Regions from separate parts of the Homo sapiens genome. Here region 1 is linked to region 2. Evidence: fine-mapped expression QTL. A gene starts in region 2. The other region holds a variant in brackets. All regions are shown on one strand. Distances are between the middles of the regions.

Region 1 (5,388 bases), 22 kb after region 2:
GCTCTGGGTTTGAATCTAGAGCCGACTGCTTACCAGCTATGGGACATCAGGCAAGATACTTAAACTCTCTGTGCCTTAGTTTCCTCATCTGCAAAATGGAAGAATAATGATATCTACCTCTTAAGCTTGTTGGGGTGATTAACTGAGATTATTCATGTTAAAAGGTTAGAACAGTGCTTAGCATGGAGTAAACCCCAAATAAATACTAGCTATTATTATCTTTTCAGCATTTGAAAAATACTATCCACAAGTTAATTGGCTGTTACTCTGTTGATGCAAATAAGCATGTTGAGGAGAAAGTTTGTATTAATTTCTGTATCCCAAATGTTTCTATCCTTGATCCCTCTCTCAGCAATAATAATTTTCTTTTTTCCTGCTTAAAGTCTCCCCTGCTCCTCCCCTGTCCATCTGATTCCTGATTTATTTGTGGTGGAATTCAGAGAATGGTCGGAGATGGACAGGGTTGGAAAGAAAGGAGAAAGGGAGGAGGGCTCTTTGTTCTTCCAGCTCTGGGCTCTCAGCTGTAATGTGCAAAGTGAAGAGAAAATTTAAGAAGTCAGAGAGACTTCTCTGATCAACAGAATAAAAGCTGAGCGGGGAGAGAATCAGAAAAGTGGTACAGGGTGGGTGTCTGGGATTCTGGGATATTTTAGAGTTTTGTTGAATGAGAGATGTTAGATATGCTGGAAGGCTGTAAGGTAGAAAACGGGGAAGGGAACTTTGAGAACTGATATACTGACTTATGATTGGGTTTGCATCAGGAAACAAGTGACAATTTAAATTTTATTTTTATTTAGTTTGGCTGTTGTACCATGCATTTTTAAATTGAATCTCTGAATAGACTGGACTACATGAGGCTTAGGATTTATTCAGATTTCAGAGGCAAACTGTCTTCTCTGTCCCTTATATCTGATTAATTAGAAATGTAACCTTATCATAGCAACTGCTTTAGGAACTGATTGAATTCTTTGGTCATATCAGGGTTTTAATAAATGTTATTCTGATAACAGAACAACTGCACTATTTGGGGAAATTATCACCATATTCAATTTTCCTTCAAACATATTTGCTATAATAAGATTTGAAGGTATTAGATTTTCTTTTCTTTTTTTCTTTTCCTTTTTTTTTTTTTTTTGAGACAGAGTCTCACTCTGTCACCCACACTCGAGTGCAATGGCACAATCTCAGCTTACTGCAACCTCCACTTCCCGAGTTCAAGCGATTCTCCTGCCTCAGCCTCCCGAGTAGCTGGGATTACAGGTATGCACCACCACACCCGGCTAATTTTTGTATTTTCAGTAGAGGTGGGGTTTCACCATGTTGTCCAGGCTGGTCTCAAACTCCTGCCTCAGCCCCCCAAAGTGCTGGGATTACAGGCGTGAGCCACTGTGCCCGGCCGAAGGTATTAGACTTTCTAGAACCATATCTTTGTTTCTGAAGAATTTTTTGAAGAATTTGAAAAATGAGGTCATTTTTTATACGTGTTTGGAAGCAGCAAGTTTTAGAGAGCAAAACAAAACAACAATGAAAAAACAGTAACAACTCCAAAAATCACACACACACACACACACACACACAATCTAGACTTTAAACTTAATCACACACACACACAAAAAGATCTCTGAAACAGGGGTTTATAGACACCCCCCGCAAGCCTCATCAATGGACCCTATGTAAGGAAAACCTACCTCTAAAGATTACTCATTGGTATCTTATTTTTAAATATAATTTTGTTCCATATATATTTTCTTCCACAACCAATGAAGATTTTTTGATTCTTGATGGAAGCATATCTTTTATTTCCTTAGTATTTCTCACATGTATATAAAGTACTTCGCAGGCAGCAGAGATTCAGTAACAATTTTTATTTAGTGAATTGGCAGTAGGTAGTAAGCGAATAGTCCTTAGGTGACGGTTCTCAAATCTCTGTGCCCTGTCTATAGTGATCAAAGGCTCAGTTCTGGGGACCAGACCTTTCTATAGGCTGATTGATGCTTGCGAGCCCAGGAGTGTCGAAAGAACAAATGCCCATGTTTTAGTAGGGCCCCAGGTCCTGAGATGAATCCCTTCCAGAAAAGCCCTTTCTTAATAATCAAGCGACAGAAAACTCGTTTGTGTTTTTTCTTTCACACTTTATTATTTGTGCACTTTAGGCATTTTTTCCAACTCTTTTTTTTTTTTTTTTTTGAGACGGAGTCTTGCTCTGTCGCCCAGGCTGGAGTGCAGTGGCGCAATCTTGGCTCACTGCAAGCTCCGCCTCCCGGGTTCACGCCATTCTCCTGCCTCAGCCTCCCGAGTAGCTGGGACTACAGGCGCCCGCCACCACGCCCGGCTAATTTTTTGTATTTTTAGTAGAGACGGGGTTTCACCGTGGTCTCGATCTCCTGACCTCGCGATCTGCCCGCCTTGGCCTCCCAAAGCGCTGGGATTACAGGCTTGAGCCACCGCGCCCGGCCCAACTCTTGGGTAATGTATCTTTTAAACTAGTTTTAAAAATTTTAATAGTGTACACACTTATAAGTAAAATTTTCAAGCCAGACAAAAAATATAAAATGAAAAGCAAAAGAACTCCCTCTTCTTCACA[C/T]CCCTGTCCCACTTTTCAGAAATAACCACTGTTAATATTTCTTATGGTATTTAATTATTTGCTACACATATACATATAAACATACATATATGTATGTCTCACTGGTTTGTTAGAATTCTTTCTATATTAAAGGAATAAGTATTTTATTAAATGGATGAAAAACATGCTTTCACAGCTTGGTATTTGAAGAAGATTTTCATTTTAAATATTTGAGCTTACTGTTTTTCCTTTTTGGCTTGCAGATATTATATGTCTTTTAGCTGAAGAACAATTTTTTTAACCTCAAGATAAAACAATGCCTTATTCAGAATTTTTTATTTATTTCCAGCCACCGAATTTCTTCATAGAGTAAGAGAAAAGAGGAAATTATTAAAAAAAAAAAAATCACAGCCAGGCACGATGGCTCATGCCTATAATTCCAGCACTTTGGGAGGCCAAGGAGAGCAGATTACTTGAGGTCAGGCATTCAAGACCAGCCTGAACAACATGGCAAACCCCATCTCTACTAAAAATACAAAAATTAGCTGGGTGTGGTGGTGCACGCCTATAATCCCAGCTACTAGGGAGACTGAGGCATGAGAATTGCTTGAACCCAGGAGGCAGAGGTTGTACTAAGCCGAGATTGCACCAGCGCACTCCAGCCTGGGCAACAGAGCGAGACTCTGTCTCAGAACAAACAAACAAACAAAACCCTCAGTGTTCTGGGAAACAGTTTTTTGTTTGTTTGTTTTTTGTTTTTTTTGAGACAGAGTCTTGCTTTGTTGCCCAGGCTGGAGTGCAGTGGTGTTATCTCGGCTCACTGCAACCTCTGCTTCCCGGGTTTAAGCGATTCTCCTGTCTCAGTCTCCTGAGTAGCTGGGATTACAGGTGTGCACCACCACACCTGGCTAATTTTTGTATTTTTAGTAAAGATGAGGTTTCACCATGTTGGTCAGCCTGGTCTTGAACTCCTGACCTCGTGATCCACCCACCTCAGCCTCCCAAAGTGCTGGAATTACAGGCATGAGCCACCGCGCCCGGCTAGGAAACAGTTTTAAAGATTTTTTTTTTAAATTGCATTGTCCTAGGAAAGCGTCAGTAGTGGGCACATTACTAGGAAGTAAATTTGGAATGAACACGACCATACTAAAGAGCTAGAATACAGCATACTTCTTGAATCCAGGCTACCCACTTAATAACTTGAGTGAGTTACCTAATCTCTCTGTGCTTTTAGTTTTTCATCTCTTTAAAAAGTCATAATAGTACCTACCTCATAGGGTTGTTATAAGCATTAAATAAGTTATATGTGTAAAGGCTTAGAAAAGTGTCAGGACAGGCCAGGCATGGTGGCTCACGCCTGTAATCCCAGCACTTTGGGAAGCCGAGGCGGGCGGATCACGAGGTCAGGAGATCAAGACCATCCTGGCTAACATGGTGAAACCCCATCTCTACTAAAAAATAGAAAAAATTAGTTGGGCGTGGTGGCGCCTGTAGTCCCAGCTACTTGGAGGCTGAGGCAGGAGAATGGCATGAACCCAGGAGGCGGAGCTTGCAGTGAGCCGAGATCCCGCCACTGCATGCACTCCAGCCTGGGTGACAGAGTGAGACACCGTCTCAAAAAAAAAAAGTGTCAGGACAGTGGCAAGCAATAATATAATCGCTCTCTTCATCACCACTCATGAGAAATTCATGCTATCATGAAAGGAAATGAGACATAGAGAGAGGACAATTTAAATTTAAATCCAAAGCAATACATCAGAAATTCAAAATAATATCCTACAAGCATAATACATAACTGCTAAAAGGCCAAAAACTGATTTGCTTTGGGTAGGATTGGTTAAGAGAAGTATAACTTTTTAATGTAAAAATAATTTCAAACTTAGAGAAAATTTGCAAGAATAATATACAAAGAACCCACGTATTCCTTTTATACAGTCACGAATGGTTAATGTTTTGTTCTGTTAGCTTTATTATATTCTGTCTTTGTCTCTCTGTATATAGATAAAGATATATAATTTTTTTCTGAGCCATTAGAAGTTATGTATATATACTCTACCACTTTACTCTATGTACCTCTGTGTGTATTTCTTAAGAACAAAGTAATTCTCTTAAATAACCATAGAATAGTTATCAACTTCAGAATATCTATTATTGGTACTTTTATTTAATGTACTCTCTATACACCAATTTTGTCAATTGACCCAATAATGTTCTTTTTAAGCATTTTTTTCCTTCTGTATAAGATCCAGTATGGGATCACATATTGCATTTAGTTGGGAAATATAACTCAATTTCCAAATATATCAGAATAATTCCATGAAAATTCCTTTGTAATTACATTAATCTAATCTATCTTTGTCAGTAAGTTAGTATCTGATATTTGACCTTAACTTCCTATAGACTTAAAGTAATGTCTGTGTCCATGTTAAATTGATGTGCTTGATACCAAAATCATCTTTTATTCTGCAGGTCACTTAGAAAATTGGAATTGTACCATGGAACTTCATAATAGATTCTCTGGGAGCAGACGAGAAGCATCATCTTAAAACCACAGCTCTTGCCAGTACATTTTTCTTTACAACTGTTTTTGGTACAACTGCACTGAAGTGTTATTTTTGATGTTGAGCTTTCTTCTTTTAGAAGCATATTGCATGGCTACATTTTCTTAAAAAAAAAAACTGTGACCTTATGCTACTTCATTGTGACTGGAAGACTGCTGGAGAATTCAGAAAGTATATAGTATTTCTGTGTTAGAGCAAGCTGGCTTTGTAGCACATTTTACAAATGTGTGGCATTGAATATTGCACAGTGATGGAGTGGGAGGC
Region 2 (5,388 bases):
GGGTGTAATCACAGCTTACTACAGCCTCAGCCTCCTGGGTTCAAGCAATCCCCCCACCTCAGCCTGCTGAGTAGCTTGGACTGTAGGGACACACCACAATGCCCAGCTAGTTTTTATCATTTTTTGTAGAGACAGGATTTTGCCATGTTGCTCAGTCTGATCTTGAACTCTTAGGCTCAGGCAATCTACCCACCTCAGCTTCCTAAAGTGCTGGGATGACAGGCATGAGCTACCACACCCAGCCTACAGTTTAGTTTTAATTATAAACAAAATATTAGAATAAATTGAAAATGGCTGGGCGTGGTGGCTTATGCCTGTCATCCCAGCACTTTGGGAGGCCAAGGCAGATGGATCATTTGAGCCCAGGAGTTTGAGACCAGCCAGGGCAACATAGTGAGACCTCATTGCTACAAAAAAAAAAATTAATTAAAAAATAAAAAATTGTCTGGGTGCGGTGGCTCACGCCTGTAATCCCAGCACTTTGGGAGGCCGAGGCGGGCAGATCACCTGAGGTCGGGAGTTCAAGACCAGCCTCATCAACATGGAGAAACCCTGTCTCTACTAAAAATACAAAGTTAGCCGGGCGTGGTGGCGCATGCCTGTAATCCCAGCTACTCCAGAGGCTGAGGCAGGAGAATCGCTTGAATCCGGGAGGCGGAGGTTGTGGTGAGCCAAGATCACACCATTGCACTCCAGCCTGGGCAACAAGAGCAAAACTCCATCTCAAAAAAATGAATAAATAAATAAATAAATAAAAGTAAACAGTCATAGTAGAGGAGAGACTGAATTATTTTTTAATTCTCTCTATAGAAAATACTATGAAACCTTGGTCCTATTAACAGATAATCAAAGAGTATGTAAGAAAAAAAGGAATTTTAGTGTATGTTAGGCAGTTAGTAATCATGAAAATATTAATACTGATTTTTTGTTTGTGGTATTTTTCAGCTCTTTAAAATTTGTAACTTGTAATTAATAGTTCTAAATAAACATACAATTTTGTATTAGTTTCATATTTACAATTCTGCATTCTTTTTATTAAAGACGGTCCCCATAATGTATAAACTTCAGGCTCACCAAACCCGGAAGTGTCTAGGTACAATATAAACTCAATATGGAGTGAACAACTAGTTTAGAAAATTCTATATCTAGGGTTTTGTTAGTGTCTTTCATAATATGACCTCAGGTAATCAAGTGACTTACTTGGCCAGTGGAAAGGAGTGGAAATAAAGATTAAGAGGTGTCAATAACAGACACCCAGCCGTAGATGGGCCAGAAGAACAAACTCTGCCCCTAGTCTAGTGGTATAGAGGAGACACAGACAGAAACCATTAACAAGCTTTAAGCAAGGGAGCAAGTGTTTAAGACTAGGAGGCAGGCGTGTGGGCAGGGATTGTCAGGCCTCTGAGCCCAAGCCAAGCCATCACATCCCCTGTGACTTGCACATATACATCCAGATGGCCTAAAGTAACTGAAGATCCACAAAAGAAGTAAAAATAGTCTTAAGTGATGACATTCCACCATTGTGATTTGTTTCTTCCCCACCCTAACTGATCAATGTGCTTTGTAATCTCCCCCCGCTTAAGCAGGTACTTTGTAATCTCCCCCACCTTTAAGAAGGTTCTTTGTAATTCTCCCCACCCTTGAGCATGTAGTTTGTGAGATCCACCCCCTGCCCACAAAACATTGCTCCTAACTCCACCGCCTATCCCAAAACCTATAAGAACTAATGATAATCCACCACCCTTTGCTGACTCTCTTTTCGGACTCAGCCCGCCTGCACCCAGTTGAAATAAACAGCCATGTTGCTCACACAAAGCCTGTTTGGTGGTCTCTTCACACAGACGCACATGAAAGGGATCTCATCTATAATTAGAAAGATGGTGCTAGCTTGAACCCAGGTGATGTTTCTTCAGGATTGCCACTGTTTTGTATTGACATTCATCGAGTAGAATGATCTTTGGGTCATTGGGTACTTTGGGGCACCCTAACTATGTAGGAGCCAGAGTTTCACTAGCTTCCCCAGCAATCCTTGCTTAGTCAATTGATTCCTATGTCTGCAGCCAAATGCTATAAAAAACTCTGGGGAAGGTAAACTCCTCCCATCCTCTTGGTTTTTCAATTAATCATTTAGATGGGAAACATAAGCCTACTCAGGTAAAAAGACACGTGAACTTCAGGCCAGGATCACAATCCTGTCCCAAATATATGACTTTCCACCCTCCCTCAACCCTTAATGGGGGTGGGCGTAGGGGAGTGTATTTTTAAAACAAATGATTTTAATTCATTCACTGTTTCCTAGCAACCAGGAAAAAGCATGTGTTCCTGATGTCTGTGAGCACCAGTCTGAGATGCGCGGATGCTTCAGCATGCCTCCAGAAGCAGAGAAAGAACAAAAGCACTGGAACCGGTCTCCGGTTGGTGAGCGATTCTCAAAGGGGAATTTGTTAAGAGCAGGCACTTAATAGAACAGCCCGAGAGACCTGTACCACGATTGCAGGTGTGCAGCAGGGAACCTGCATGGAATGTGCAGATATTCTCCAGGAAATGATATTCCTATAGAATTTGGGGGCTCTGACTTCTAGGGAATTGTTTCTATGAAACAGCTAAAGCCTGAGACAGCTGACATCTTTCCAGTACCTCTTTTGTGTGTGCTTTCAGCCACACACAAAACACACAGCGGTCTTGTTTTCTTTAGAGCTCTATAGACAGAGAAGAGGGATAACTGGCAGAATTCAAATCTAGCTGAATTAGAATCCATGCAAATGGCCTTCTTTAGACCAGGCGTAGCTACTAAATGCATATAAATCACTGACTTCCACAGCTGTAAGGGACCTCTCCAATCATTCAACGCTTGTTTTACAGAGGAAGAAATGAAAAAACATAGGCAAATTAATTTGTTCAAGGTGCACAGCTAGTTGGTGGCCTCACAGGGTCTTCTGACCTACAGTTTAGTGGTTTGGGAGTGGGACATACTCATATTTTAAAGACTGAAACCTTTGCATATTATACCATATTGAATGGTGGTGGTGGGGGCAGGGGATGGGGAGGATGAGGGATGATCTAAGACGAAGCTGTCATAACAACGAAGCAATGCAAATATTATAACTTGTAAATCTGAAACTCAAAGGGCTTTCTCAGAATTACAAGACAAGAATGGATTAAAGCACATGCTAACTGTGCCTTACTCCCTGCCAAGGAATTGAGATAGGCCAAATAGTCTAGCAACAAATGTTTTTCCAAACTATTGAATCAGAAGAATTTTAATGCATGCCAGACTTTATAGAGTTACAGAATGTTAGGGTAAGAAGTGCTCTTGGCAATGTTAACCAGGCCCATCTTTTTCGGATAACACCTGAGGCTGGGAAGCAGAAGACGCACAGCCACATCAATGAGTGTGGCTTTCCTGGGTCCAGTGCTCTCTCTTCTCTAGGCAATAGGGCCACCTCTATGGCTTGCTGCATCCTCTCCCCATTGACTCTGTAGGGAGCAATATTATTGTCTTGATACTTAATCAATTTCCTGTGAAATGCTCTTACTTTCTTCCCCACTTTCATCTTATCCACATCCCGTCCACTCCCCAAAAACTAAAGCAGATGTAGCAGCAGCAAGAATGATCCAAAATGGCTGGGCACGGTGGCTCACGCCTGTAATCCCAGCACTTTGGGAGGCTGAGGCAGGTGGATTACAAGGTCAGGAGATGGAGACCATCCTGGCCAATATGATGACACCACCCGGTCTCTACTAAAAGTACAAAACAATTAGCTGGGCTTGGTGGCGTGCACCTGTAGTCCCAGCTACTTGGGAGGCTGAGGCAGGAGAATCACTTGAACCCAGGAGGCAGAGGTTGCAGTGAACCGAAATTGTGCCACTGCACTCCAGCCTGGTGACAGACCGAGACTCCGTCTCAAAAAAAAAAAAAAAATCCAAAATAATGAAGGTGGCCTAGGGAAGCATTCATTTAGATCAGCGCCATCCTGTTGGCTCTCTGCTTACTGTTGGTAGAGCTGAATCAAGTGAAGCTTAGTGTTTATATGGTACCATTTTCAAAAAACCGTTTCTAAAGTTTGTTTTCCAATCATCTTTAGAGTAGTGATTTAAATATACGTACAATTTTAAAAGTACAAAGGGTAGTATAATGAACATCCATGGACTTAGAATTCCAGAGTCAACAACTATTAACATTTTGTTATATTTGAGTATTAGGGTTCCTCAGAGAAATTGAACTGACAGGATGTGTGTGGATACACACACACACACACACACACACACACACACACACACACACGGTGCAGTATAGGCTTAACCATCTCTTTCAAATATTTTGATTTTACAGAATTGGCTCACATGATTGTGGAGTCTTGGCCAGTCCAAAATCTGATAGAGGAGGCCAGCTGCCAGCAGACTCAGGGAAGAGTTGCAGTTTGAATCCAAAGGCTGCCTACTGGCAGATTCCTTCTTGCATGGGGGAGGTCAGTCTTTTGTTCTATCAAGGCTTTCGACTGATTGGAAAAGGCTCACTCAGATAGAGGGCAATCTGCTTTCAAAGTCCACTGATTTAAATGATAATCTCATTAAAAAAAAAACACCAGAAACATCCGGGATAAAGTTTGAACAACTATTTGATCATAGAGGCCCAACCATAAAATAAATTTAAAAATAAATAAAACATCACAAATAGAGTTGATACCCTATTTATACCTCTCCCTGTGTACCCCATTCAATAGTGATGATTTTCTATAGACTCCTTTTTGGTGACTTCAGACTCCTTTTGACCCCATCACCTGATCTTCAATTTCTGGTTCAATGTGGGGGTGGGAATTGAAGACATATTTCCCATAACCATATTTTCTTTCAAGGATCTCCTGGCAATAGGAGAGTGTAGATGGATTCTATGGAAAACTCCATTATGAGCCACTGAGCCAGGGTGAACTCACTGGGAGTTGAATGCTCACAGAAAAACCCAAACACATTCAGATCTAGATGGATCACATCCATCTAGTTTGGATGGTTCTGCCCGAATAGTCTCATCAGCTATTACACAAACCATTTTGGTTTTACTTGCTAGATTATTGCAAGGAAGAGTAAATTAAGTAAATAAGTGTTGGAAAAATTTGGAAGGAATAAAAGGTGTCAAATAAACACAAAAGTACAGTGCATGAGCCTCCAGGTGGCTTTTTGACCCTGAACCTGCCGAGTAAGAGGCCTGAATGAGGTGCTCCCTCAGATCCCTTCCAGAGCCTAGGACTCCATGACTGGTATTTGGAGTGATAGCATCCCTAACTCATATTCTCTCTGATTTGCTGCTGTAGCCTCTAGACTCAGAGAAGCTGGGTCTAAGTGTAGTGTTAGCTGCAGATACCTGCTCAGCTGGCTAAGCCTTTAACATGG

What was found. PIP is the estimated chance that this variant, and not a neighbour inherited with it, causes the effect. A credible set is the group of variants that fine-mapping cannot tell apart.
Region 1: its variant is the best candidate, but not a certain one, in a credible set for the expression of C2orf80 in cerebral cortex (GTEx, PIP 0.65).

What each region holds. Positions count from the first base shown.
Region 1 is chr2:208,165,460-208,170,847 of GRCh38, reverse strand. It overlaps C2orf80 (chromosome 2 open reading frame 80), which reads left to right. Exons shown (of 9, transcript NM_001099334.3): 9 at 5,033-5,388. The coding sequence ends at 5,041. Among named protein-coding and RNA genes, the nearest start is that of CRYGA, 4.6 kb to the right of the region's middle. The variant C/T (reference allele first, on the strand shown) is at 2,585.
Region 2 is chr2:208,186,983-208,192,370 of GRCh38, reverse strand. It overlaps C2orf80 (chromosome 2 open reading frame 80), which reads left to right and starts at 2,341. Exons shown (of 9, transcript NM_001099334.3): 1 at 2,341-2,418; 2 at 5,310-5,388. The coding sequence starts at 5,385.